2 separate regions of the Homo sapiens genome follow, and region 2 is linked to region 1. Evidence: fine-mapped expression QTL. A gene starts in region 1. The other region holds a variant in brackets. All regions are shown on one strand. Distances are from middle to middle. Region 1 holds the start of LINC02893 (long intergenic non-protein coding RNA 2893). Region 2 overlaps GAS1RR (GAS1 adjacent regulatory RNA).

Region 1 (5,242 bases):
ACATGTCAACTTGACTAGACTATGGTGCCCACATGTTTGGTTAAACACCAGTCTAGATATTGCTGTGCAGGTATATTTTTAGATATGACTAATGTTTAAATCACTAGATTTTGAATACAGCAGATTACCCTCCATAATGTCACTGGGCTTTACCCAGTGAGTTGCTAAGGACTTAAGAGAAATTGACTGCCTGCAGACTGCTTCCAGGCTCAAGCTGAAATGTCAGCTCTATCCTGGATCTCCAGCCTGCCCCACAGATTTCGGATTTGTGAAATCCTGTGAACCAACTTACTAAAATATCTCTTCTCTCTGTCTGTCTCTGTCTTCACATACACACACACACACACACACACACAGCCTTTTGGTTTGGCTTCTCTGGATAGCCCTGACTAATACAAATACCCTTGGTTGAGGGCTCCCTCAGGCTAAGGGGTGCAGGTGCTGACAATAGAAAGTGTGGAGGCTTGCAGTGAAATGAGAGGAGGGAATAGTGGCAGGCCACCAATAGTGGCTGTTATACTTTGCCTACCACTGCTGAAGACCAAAAGGGATGAGCCAAAACAATCAGCGGCTAGGGACAGTGGCTTCCAGGGAGTCAGTGGTGGAGTCTATTTATGCAGGAGTCTTATGTCAATAGCAGTGTCTTGGTCTGACCAGGCCTCTTACAAAGTGATTGGGTCCTTGGACTCCCAGAGCAGCCTCATTCTCACCTATTCCTTAATTTCTATTTGCTAGTTTCCTATCAGTTCTATGAGCTATCAGTTGCCTTCCAATGAATTCCAGTCTTTAAAACTAATGACCAGAAACTATGGTTGTTCATTGCAGTAGGGAACTTTGGTATTTATGCTTTTCTAAAACATTTTGATCATTCATTACTGCTCCTAGCTCATATTTAACGCATTCACTTTCGATTTTTAGAGTCTGAATGTTTTAGCCTAGATTATCTTATTTAGGCATAAATCGTTATGTTTAGTAATTTTTTTGAGATATAGGACAGAAACAGATACTAATGTACATTTTATCAGGAAGTGGCAACACTTTAAACCATGGCAGTAAACATGGCAGTGTGTTCGTTTGTTCACTCAATTACAATTTGTTAAAGCATTACTACAGTAATGAGTATTTGGAATATGACAGCGAATTACACCAAGTCCTTGTCCTTACAAAGTTTAGTTTAGAGTGGAAAAAGATTTAAAAAATGATGAAAACAATAACAACAACAAAAACCACAGCATTCTACCATCAGGGAAGAGAGCATAATTTTAAAGGGTTGAATGAAACATTAATTAAACAAATGAGGTATTTCAGCAGAGATGAATAGCATTTTTTACAGTCTCAATTGAGACACTAGAAATTAAAAAACAAATCAGAGTTTTTTGTAAAAAAAGTTTTTTTCTAGGGCCCATGCACAGACTGTACGTTGCCAAGAGGGCAAACATCAGTAAATTTGAAAATAGTTTGAGAGAAATTATTCAAACTGAAACAAACCCAGGAAAAAAGAACTTTATAAACATGAAAGACGAAGAAACGAAGAGGAAAGGAAGAGGAAAAAGAAAAAGGATACGAAGTGCAAGTATACTTCAGGATCAAACTGCTGAAAATCAAAGATAAAAAGGAAATATTAAAGGTAGCCAGAGAAACGCAACAGGAAGAAAGAAAAGAATTACCATAGAGGGAACGGAGGAGCCAAGATGGCCGAATAAGCTCCGGTCTACAGCTCCCAGCGTGAGCGACGCAGAAGACGGGTGATTTCTGCATTTCCATCTGAGGTACCGGGTTCATCTCACTAGGGAGTGCCAGACAGTGGGCGCAGGTCAGTGGGTGCGCGCACCGTGCGCGAGCTGAAGCAGGGCGAGGCATTGCCTCACTCGGGAAGAGCAAGGGGTCAGGGAGTTCCCTTTCCTAGTCAGAGAAAGGGGTGACAGACAACACCTGGAAAATCAGGCCACTCCCACCCGAATACTGCGCTTTTCCGACTGGCTTAAAAAACGGCGCACCACGAGATTATATCCGGCACCTGGCTCGGAGGGTCCTACAACCACGGAGTCTCGCTGATTGCTAGCACAGCAGTCTGAGATCAAACTGCAAGACAGCAGCGAGGCTGGGGGAGGGGCGCCCGCCATTGCCCAGGCTTGCTTAGGTAAACAAAGCAGCCGGGAAGCTCGAACTGGGTGGAGCCCACCACAGCTCAAGGAGGCCTGCCTGCCTCTGTAGGCTCCACCTCTGGGGGCAGGGCACAGACAAACAAAAAGACAGCAGTAACCTCTGCAGACTTAAATGTCCCTGTCTGACAGCTTTGAAGAGAGCAGTGGTCCTCCCAGCACGCAGCTGGAGATCTGAGAAGGGGCAGACTGCCTCCTCAAGTGGGTGCCTGACCCCTGACCCCCGAGCAGCCTAACTGGGAGGCACCCCCCAACAGGGGCACACTGACACCTCACATGGCAGGGTACTCCCACAGACCCGCAGCTGAGGGTACTGTCTGTTAGAAGGAAAACTAACAAACAGAAAAGACATCCACACCAAAAACCCATCTGTACATCACCATCATCAAAGACCAAAAGTAGATAAAACCACAAAGATGGGGAAAAAACAGAACAGAAAAACTGGAAACTCTAAAAAGCAGAGCACCTCTCCTCCTCCAAAGGAACGCAGTTCCTCACCAGCAATGGAACAAAGCTGGACGGAGAATGACTTTGACGAGCTGAGAGAAGAAGGCTTCAGACGATCAAATTACTCTGAGCTACGGGAGGACATTCAAACCAAAGGCAAAGAAGTTGAAAACTTTGAAAAAAATTTAGAAGAATGTATAACTAGAATAACCAATACAGAGAAGTGCTTAAAGGAGCTGATGGAGCTGAAAACCAAGGCTCGAGAACTACGTGAAGAATGCAGAAGCCTCAGGAGCCGATACGATCAACTGGAAGAAAGGGTATCAGCGATGGGAGATGAAATGAATGAAATGAAGCAAGAAGGGAAGTTTAGAGAAAAAAGAATGAAAAGAAATGAGCAAAGCCTCCAAGAAATATGGGACTATGTGAAAAGACCAAATCTACGTCTGATTGGTGTACCTGAAAGTGATGGGGAGAATGGAACCAAGTTGGAAAACACTCTGCAGGATATTATCCAGGAGAACTTCCCCAATCTAGCAAGGCAGGCCAACGTTCAGATTCAGGAAATACAGAGAACGCCACAAAGATACTCCTCTAGAAGAGCAACTCCAAGACACATAATTGTCAGATTCACCAAAGTTGAAATGAAGGAAAAAATGTTAAGGGCAGCCAGAGAGAAAGGTCGGGTTACCCTCAAAGGGAAGCCCATCAGACTAACAGCGGATCTTTCGCCAGAAACCCTACAAGCCAGAAGAGAGTGGGGGCCGATATTCAACATTCTTAAAGAAAACAATTTTCAACCCAGAATTTCATATCCAGCCAAACTAAGCTTCATAAGAGAAGGAGAAATAAAATACTTTACAGACAAGCAAATGCTGAGAGATTTTGTCACCACCAGGCCTGCCCTAAAAGAGCTCCTGAAGGAAGCGCTAAACATGGAAAGGAACAACCGGTACCAGCTGCTGCAAAATCATGCCAAAATGTAAAGACCATCGAGACTAGGAAGAAACTGCATCAACTAACGAGCAAAATAACCAGCTAACATCATAATGACAGAATCAAATTCACACATAACAATATTAACTTTAAATGTAAATGGACTAAATGCTCCAATTAAAAGACACAGACTGGCAAATTGGATAAAGAGTCAAAACCCATCAGTGTGCTGTATTCAGGAAACCCATCTCACGTGCAGAGACACACATAGGCTCAAAATAAAAGGGTGGAGGAAAATCTACCAAGCAAATGGAAAACAAAAAAAGGCAGGGGTTGCAATCCTAGTCTCTGATAAAACAGACTTTAAACCAACAAAGATCAAAAGAGACAAAGAAGGCCATTACATAATGGTAAAGGGATCAATTCAACAAGAAGAGCTAACTATACTAAATATATATGCACCCAACACAGGAGCACCCAGATTCATAAAGCAAGTCCTGAGTGACCTACAAAGAGACTTAGACTCCCACACATTAATAATGGGAGACTTTAACACCCCACTGTCAACATTAGACAGATCAACGAGACAGAAAGTCAACAAGGATACCCAGGAATTGCACTCAGCCCTGCACCAAGCTGTCCTAATAGACATCTACAGAACTCTCCACCCCAAATCAACAGAATATACATTTTTTTCAGCACCACACCGCACCTATTCCAAAATTGACCACATACTTGGAAGTAAAGCTCTCCTCAGCAAATGTAAAAGAACAGAAATTATAACAAACTATCTCTCAGACCACAGTGCAATCAAACTAGAACTCAGGATTAAGAATCTCACTCAAAACTGCTCAACTACATGGAAACTGAACAACCTGCTCCTGAATGACTACTGGGTACATAACGAAATGAAGGCAGAAATAAATATGTTCTTTGAAACCAATGAGAACAAAGACACAACATACCAGAATCTCTGGGACACATTCAAAGCAGTGTGTAGAGGGAAATTTATAGCACTAAATGCCCACAAGAGAAAGCAGGAAAGATCCAAAATTGACACCCTAACGTCACAATTAAAAGAACTAGAAAAGCAAGAGCAAACACATTCAAAAGCTAGCAGAAGGCAAGAAATAACTAAAATCAGAGCAGAACTGAAGGAAATAGAGATACAAAAAACCCTTCAAAAAATTAATGAATCCAGGAGCTGGTTTTTTGAAAGGATCAACAAAATAGATACACCGCTAGCAAGACTAATAAAGAAAAAAAGAGAGAAGAATCAAATAGACGCAATAAAAAATGATAAAGGGGATATCACCACCGATCCCACAGAAATACAAACTACCATCAGAGAATACTACAAGCACCTCTACGCAAATAAACTAGAAAATCTAGAAGAAATGGATAAATTCCTCGACACATACACTCTCCCAAGACTAAACCAGAAAGAAGTTGAATCTCTGAATAGACCAATAACAGGATCTGAAATTGTGGCAATAATCAATAGCTTACCAACCAAAAAGAGTCCAGGACCAGATGGATTCACAGCTGAATTCTACCAGAAGTACAAGGAGGAACTGGTACCATTCCTTCTGAAACTATTCCAATCAATAGAAAAAGAGGGAATACTCCCTAACTCATTTTATGAGGCCAGCATCATTCTGATACCAAAGCCAGGCAGACACACAACCAAAAAAGAG
Region 2 (5,242 bases), 51 kb before region 1:
GATAAGGCCTTGAATACTTCTTTGAACTTTTTGAAAGTGTATACCTATTTTTTAAGTGTATACTTGTTTTTTAAAAACAGTGTTTGCCTGCCTTGTTTGAAGACACGAAAAAATGTACACAAAATGATTTAGAACTGTTGAACTTTTCAGAAAATAATTTAAAATCATCTACCTCATAACTAAAGGTATGTTTTTTTAAAATTACAAATCAATTTCAGCAAGTTTTAAAGTTGATAATATCTCATCCTGTTTTGGGTATACCATGTACAGTAATTAGTACTGTACTTAATTAAAACGATCAGTAATTCTTATCATTTTAAAGAGGGCAAACTGAAGTGATCTTTTTTCAGTGGCAAGAAAACCCCCAACTCTCAGCATAGCCACATTAACCTTCTTTTCGTTCCACAAATTAGCCAAGCTCATTTCATTCCTCAAGTCTCTGCACTTACTGTTTCTTCTTTTTGCTACATTCTTCCCAGAAATACTTGCTTTTCGTCTTTTGTATTTCATTCAGGTCAAATGTCAAATGTTCCTATTTCAGAAAATGTGTCCCCCCCTACCCCTCACCAACTCACCCAGTTATGCAGACCAAAAACCTGGAAGGTTATTTACCAATTTTCCCAGTCCCCCCATATGTCATGTATCAGTCTGTCCTGTTGATTCTGTGTCTCAGTTCCATCTGGAATCTGACCATGTCCTGTCATTTCTATTGCTAAAACTCTAGTCTAAGCCACCATGCTCTTTCATCTGTATTAGCACAACAACCCTTTCTCATTGCAACTTAGCTGGCCATACCTACTGCAGAAACTGGTACCTTGAAAGGGGATGTTGCTAGGATACAAACTTAATATGTTTATTTCTTTTGAGAACTGCCAGACTGTCCCAAAGTGCCTGAACCATTCTCTATTCCAACCAGCAATATATGAGGACTCTAGTTTCTCCACATCTTCACCAACACTTGTTATTTTCCTTTTTGGTTAATAGCTATCCTAGTGGGTGTGAAGGGGTACCTCATTGTGGTTTTGATTTGTATTTCCTTAATGACTAATGATGTTGAGCATCTTTTCAAGTGCTTGTTGGCTGCTTGTATAGCTTATTTGAAGAAGTGTTTCTTCAAGTCATTTGCCATTTAAAAAATTGGGTGTTTTTTTTTTTTGCTGTTGAATTGTAAGAGTTCTGTATGTATTTTGGATACTAGACCCTTATCAAATCATAATTTGCAAATATTTTCTCCCATTCTGTGGGTTGTCTTTTCACTTTCTTGACAATGTCCTTTGATGCACAAAAGTTTTTATTTTTTATTAAGTCCATTTATTCATCTTCTTTTTTGCTTGTGCTTTTAGTATCACATCTAAGAATCATTGTTAAATCCAAGATTCCTATGTTTTATTCTAAGAATTGGAAAATGGAGACTCAAAGAAATACATGTACACACATGATCATAGCAGCACTATTAACAATACTCAAAGGGTAAAAACAGCCCAATTGTCCATCAATGAATGGATGAATAAAATGTCGTTATGCATACAATGGAATTTTATTCAATCATAAAAATAATGTTTTACCGATGTGTGCTACAACATGAAAAACCTTGAAAACATTCTGCTAAGTAAAGGAAGCCAGACACAAAAGTATGGCATAATTCCATTTACATGAAATGTTCAGAATGAGTAAATCCATAGAGATAGAATTCAGATTGATGGTTACCAAGGGCTGGGAGAAAGGAGAATAGGACAATTGCTTAATGGGTATAGGGTTTCCTTTTGGGGTGATGAAATGTTTTAGAATTAGATAGAAGTGGTGGTTGCACAATATTCTCAATGTACTAAATGCCACTGAATTGTTCACTGTAAGATGGCTAATTTTACATTACGTGAGTTTCACTTGAAAAAAGCAAATTGCAAAGAACAAAGTAGAATCGCTCCATTTCCTCTCTGAAAGGTAATACATTTAATATATTTTTATTTCTGCTTTTTCTATATTTCTTTTCAATTTTTTATATATTAGAATTTTAGATACACAGTATTTTTTTATAGTATATGTCTTCTATTTTAAGACTTATTGTTGATATTTGCATTATGCTTAATATTCACATTAACAATAATTATTTAGACTTATTTGTAGTTTTCTGATTTCATTGTTCATCTTTGATGAAAATACTACGCCTTCCTCATTCTTGAATATGTTATAGTATTTCTTTGAACAATTTTTTTTGTTTCTTTTGTTTTGTTTTGTTTCTTTGAGACAGAGTCTCACTCTGTTACCCAGGCTGGAGTGCAATGGCACGATCTTGGCTCACTGAAACTTCTGCCTTCCCGGTTCAACCGATTCTCCTGCCTCAGTCTCCCAAGTAGTTGGTATTATAGGCACGCACAACCATAACCGGCTAATTTTTATTTTTAGTAGAGATGGGGTTTCGCTGTGTTGGCCAGGCTGGTCTCGAACTCCTGGCCTCAAGTGATCCACTCATGTTGGCCTCCCAAAGTGCTGAGATTAGATTACAGGTGTGAGTCACCATGCTTGGCCCTTTGAGCAATGTTTGAAAGAAGAGTATATATGTGAAACTCTACTTGAAGACTTTAATTTCTGAGGATGACTTTCACTTGCTTTCACTTGACTGTTTCATTAGATGTAAAACTCTTAGGACACCCAGAAAGATGGAGTGGATGTACTTTTCCCTATTCTTCATGTCAGAAAGCCAAAATCAAACAAACACAAACCTAAAATATCAAGAGACAGAATACTTTAATGAAGTATTTTAAAAAATAAAAATTATGCTAAAATCTATGATAGACAAAATATAAAAATTTGAAATAGAGTTTGACAAGGCAAGATTAGGGTGGGGTGAGTCATACAGGTGCAACATCAGATCTCCCCAATTTAAAATTTTAGTATTTCATCCAGCATGAATTATAATTCATTACATTTCATTTAATTCTTATTTTTAAAAATTGCAGTAAATATTGTTTCTCCTGATTACTGAATTTTTGGGTGTTCATTAAAATTTTGCACCTCAGGACTTCATTCACCTTACTTTAATCCTGCTTAGAGCACATTTTTTATCCTCAAAACTC[T/C]CTAGGTTTTGCTCTGATGTAGTGGCTGTCAAATTTGGCTTCACACTAGAATTTAAATGTTATTCGATAAATTTAATATCCACACTCTTTCCTCAGACAAGTTAAGCCAGACTCACCATTAGTGAAGCAAGATTTTAAAAATCTTTCTAGGAGATTCTAATTTGCAGTTGGGGTTGTAAACTACAACCTTATTTTTTTATTCCTATAGAGTTCAGTGATAAGGAATATTGATCATCTAGTCAGAATGCATCAGTTCAGCTCTTGGCTTTGCGTCCTTGAGTAAGTTATTTAGCATTTCTGATACTTAAATTCCCATCTCATGGCATGGTCCTGAAGATTCAAGGAAAAATCACATGCAAACCCTAAGCACTGTGCCTGGATCTTAGCAACCATAAATGCTTGCCATTAAGATATTGCTGGTGCTGGCCGGGTGCGGTGGCTCAAGCCTGTAATCCCAGCACTTTGGGAGGCTGAGGCGGGCAGATCATTTGAGGTCAAGAGTTCAAGATGAGCCTGAGCAACATGGTGAAACTCCGTCTCTACTAAAAATACAAAATAATTAGCTGGGTGTGGTGGCACATGCCTTTAGTCCCAGCTACACGGGAGGCTAAAGCAGGAGAATTGCCTGAACCAAGGAGACAGAGGTTGCAGTGAGGTGAGAACGCGCCACTGCACTCAGCCTGGGAGACAGAACGAGACTCCATTCAAAAAAAAAAAGAAAGATATTCTGGTGCTGAAGATGGAAACAGGAAAAAGCAATAGCTACGATTTAGTATTGTAGAGGAGAATCTTTTGCCAGTATGAAATCTTTTGCTATATCCTCTCAAAAATATGTTTCCAAAGGATTTGTCTCCATGTCTGTCTTTATTTATTTTGCCTCATATTCAGTGAGCCTATTTGCTTTAACAACACAAATGCTTTAGTTCAAATTTGTCCAACCTGCAGCCCACAGGACAGCTTCAAATGCAGCCCAACATAAATGATTTTTTGGCCCTTTTTTTTTTTTTTAGTTTATCAGCTATCATTAGTATTAGTGTATTTTATGTATGGCCCAAGACAATTCTTCTTCCAGTATGGTCCAGGGAAGCCAAAAGATTGGACACCCCTGCTTTTAGTTCAATACATTTTTTTTCTATTATAACTTTGATTACTTTCTCACTCTCTGTTTTGTTTTCTCCTTTTGGTAATATATATAGCTCTCTTTCTCACTAACTCTATAATCTTTTTTCTTCAATTTCTTGGAGAAGTTTTTAATTTTGTGTTTTTGATGTAAAAACACATATGCACAGTTTTACAAGTCAAAAGCTAAAAGCTTTTGAAAAAAATGGCAGATTCTCATATATTACTTGTATTTATTCTCTTCAGAAGTCACTTTAAAGTATTATCTTTTCTTCTGGCATTACCTTTTTAAATAGCATGTTTTAAAATAGAAATTTTCATGGTTTTTATTTATTTTTTGAATATGTAACACATTAACTTTGTTCAAAAGTTAAATAAATACAAATTTCTAGATTCTTCATATTGACCTTAGTAATAATTTCCTGAATATGACACCAAAAGCACAGGCAACAAAAGCAAAAATAAATAAATGGGACTACATCAACCTAAAAAGCTGCTGCACAGCAAAGGAAACAACAGAATGAAGAGGCAACCTGTGGAATGGGAGAAAATATTTGCAAATCATACATCTGATTAAAAGTTAATATTTAAAATATATGAGTTAGTTCTACAACTCAATAGCAGAAAAACAATCTGACTTTTAAAATGGGCAGAAGACCCAAATAGACACTTTGTAAAAAAACATAAATAATCTTAAACAAATATATAAAAAAGTACTCAATATTATTAATTATAAGGGAAATGCAAATTAAAACCACAATGAAGTAATACCTCACACCTTTTGGATGGCTATTATCAAAAAAATAGGGAAAAGGAAACTCTTGTACACCTTTTTCTGGAACTATAAATTGATATAGCCACAGTGGAAAACAGAGCAGTTCCTCAAAAACTTAAAAAAAGAACTACCAGATGATCCAGCAATCCCTCTTCTTGGTATATACCCTGCAAAACTGAAACCAAATTCTCCAAGAGCTGTCTGCACACTCATATTCATTATGGTATTATTTACAATAGCAAAGACACAGAAACAACTTAAATGTCCATGAACA

The links. PIP is the estimated chance that this variant, and not a neighbour inherited with it, causes the effect.
Region 2: its variant is the best candidate, but not a certain one, in a credible set for the expression of LINC02893 in unexposed skin (GTEx, PIP 0.53).

What each region holds. Positions count from the first base shown.
Region 1 is chr9:87,040,204-87,045,445 of GRCh38, forward strand. It overlaps LINC02893 (long intergenic non-protein coding RNA 2893), which reads right to left and starts at 1,923. Exons shown (of 2, transcript NR_027471.1): 1 at 1,668-1,923.
Region 2 is chr9:86,988,722-86,993,963 of GRCh38, forward strand. GAS1RR (GAS1 adjacent regulatory RNA) reads left to right here. Exons shown (of 7, transcript NR_049794.1): 5 at 81-185. Among named protein-coding and RNA genes, the nearest start is that of GAS1RR, 43 kb to the left of the region's middle. The variant T/C (reference allele first, on the strand shown) is at 3,075.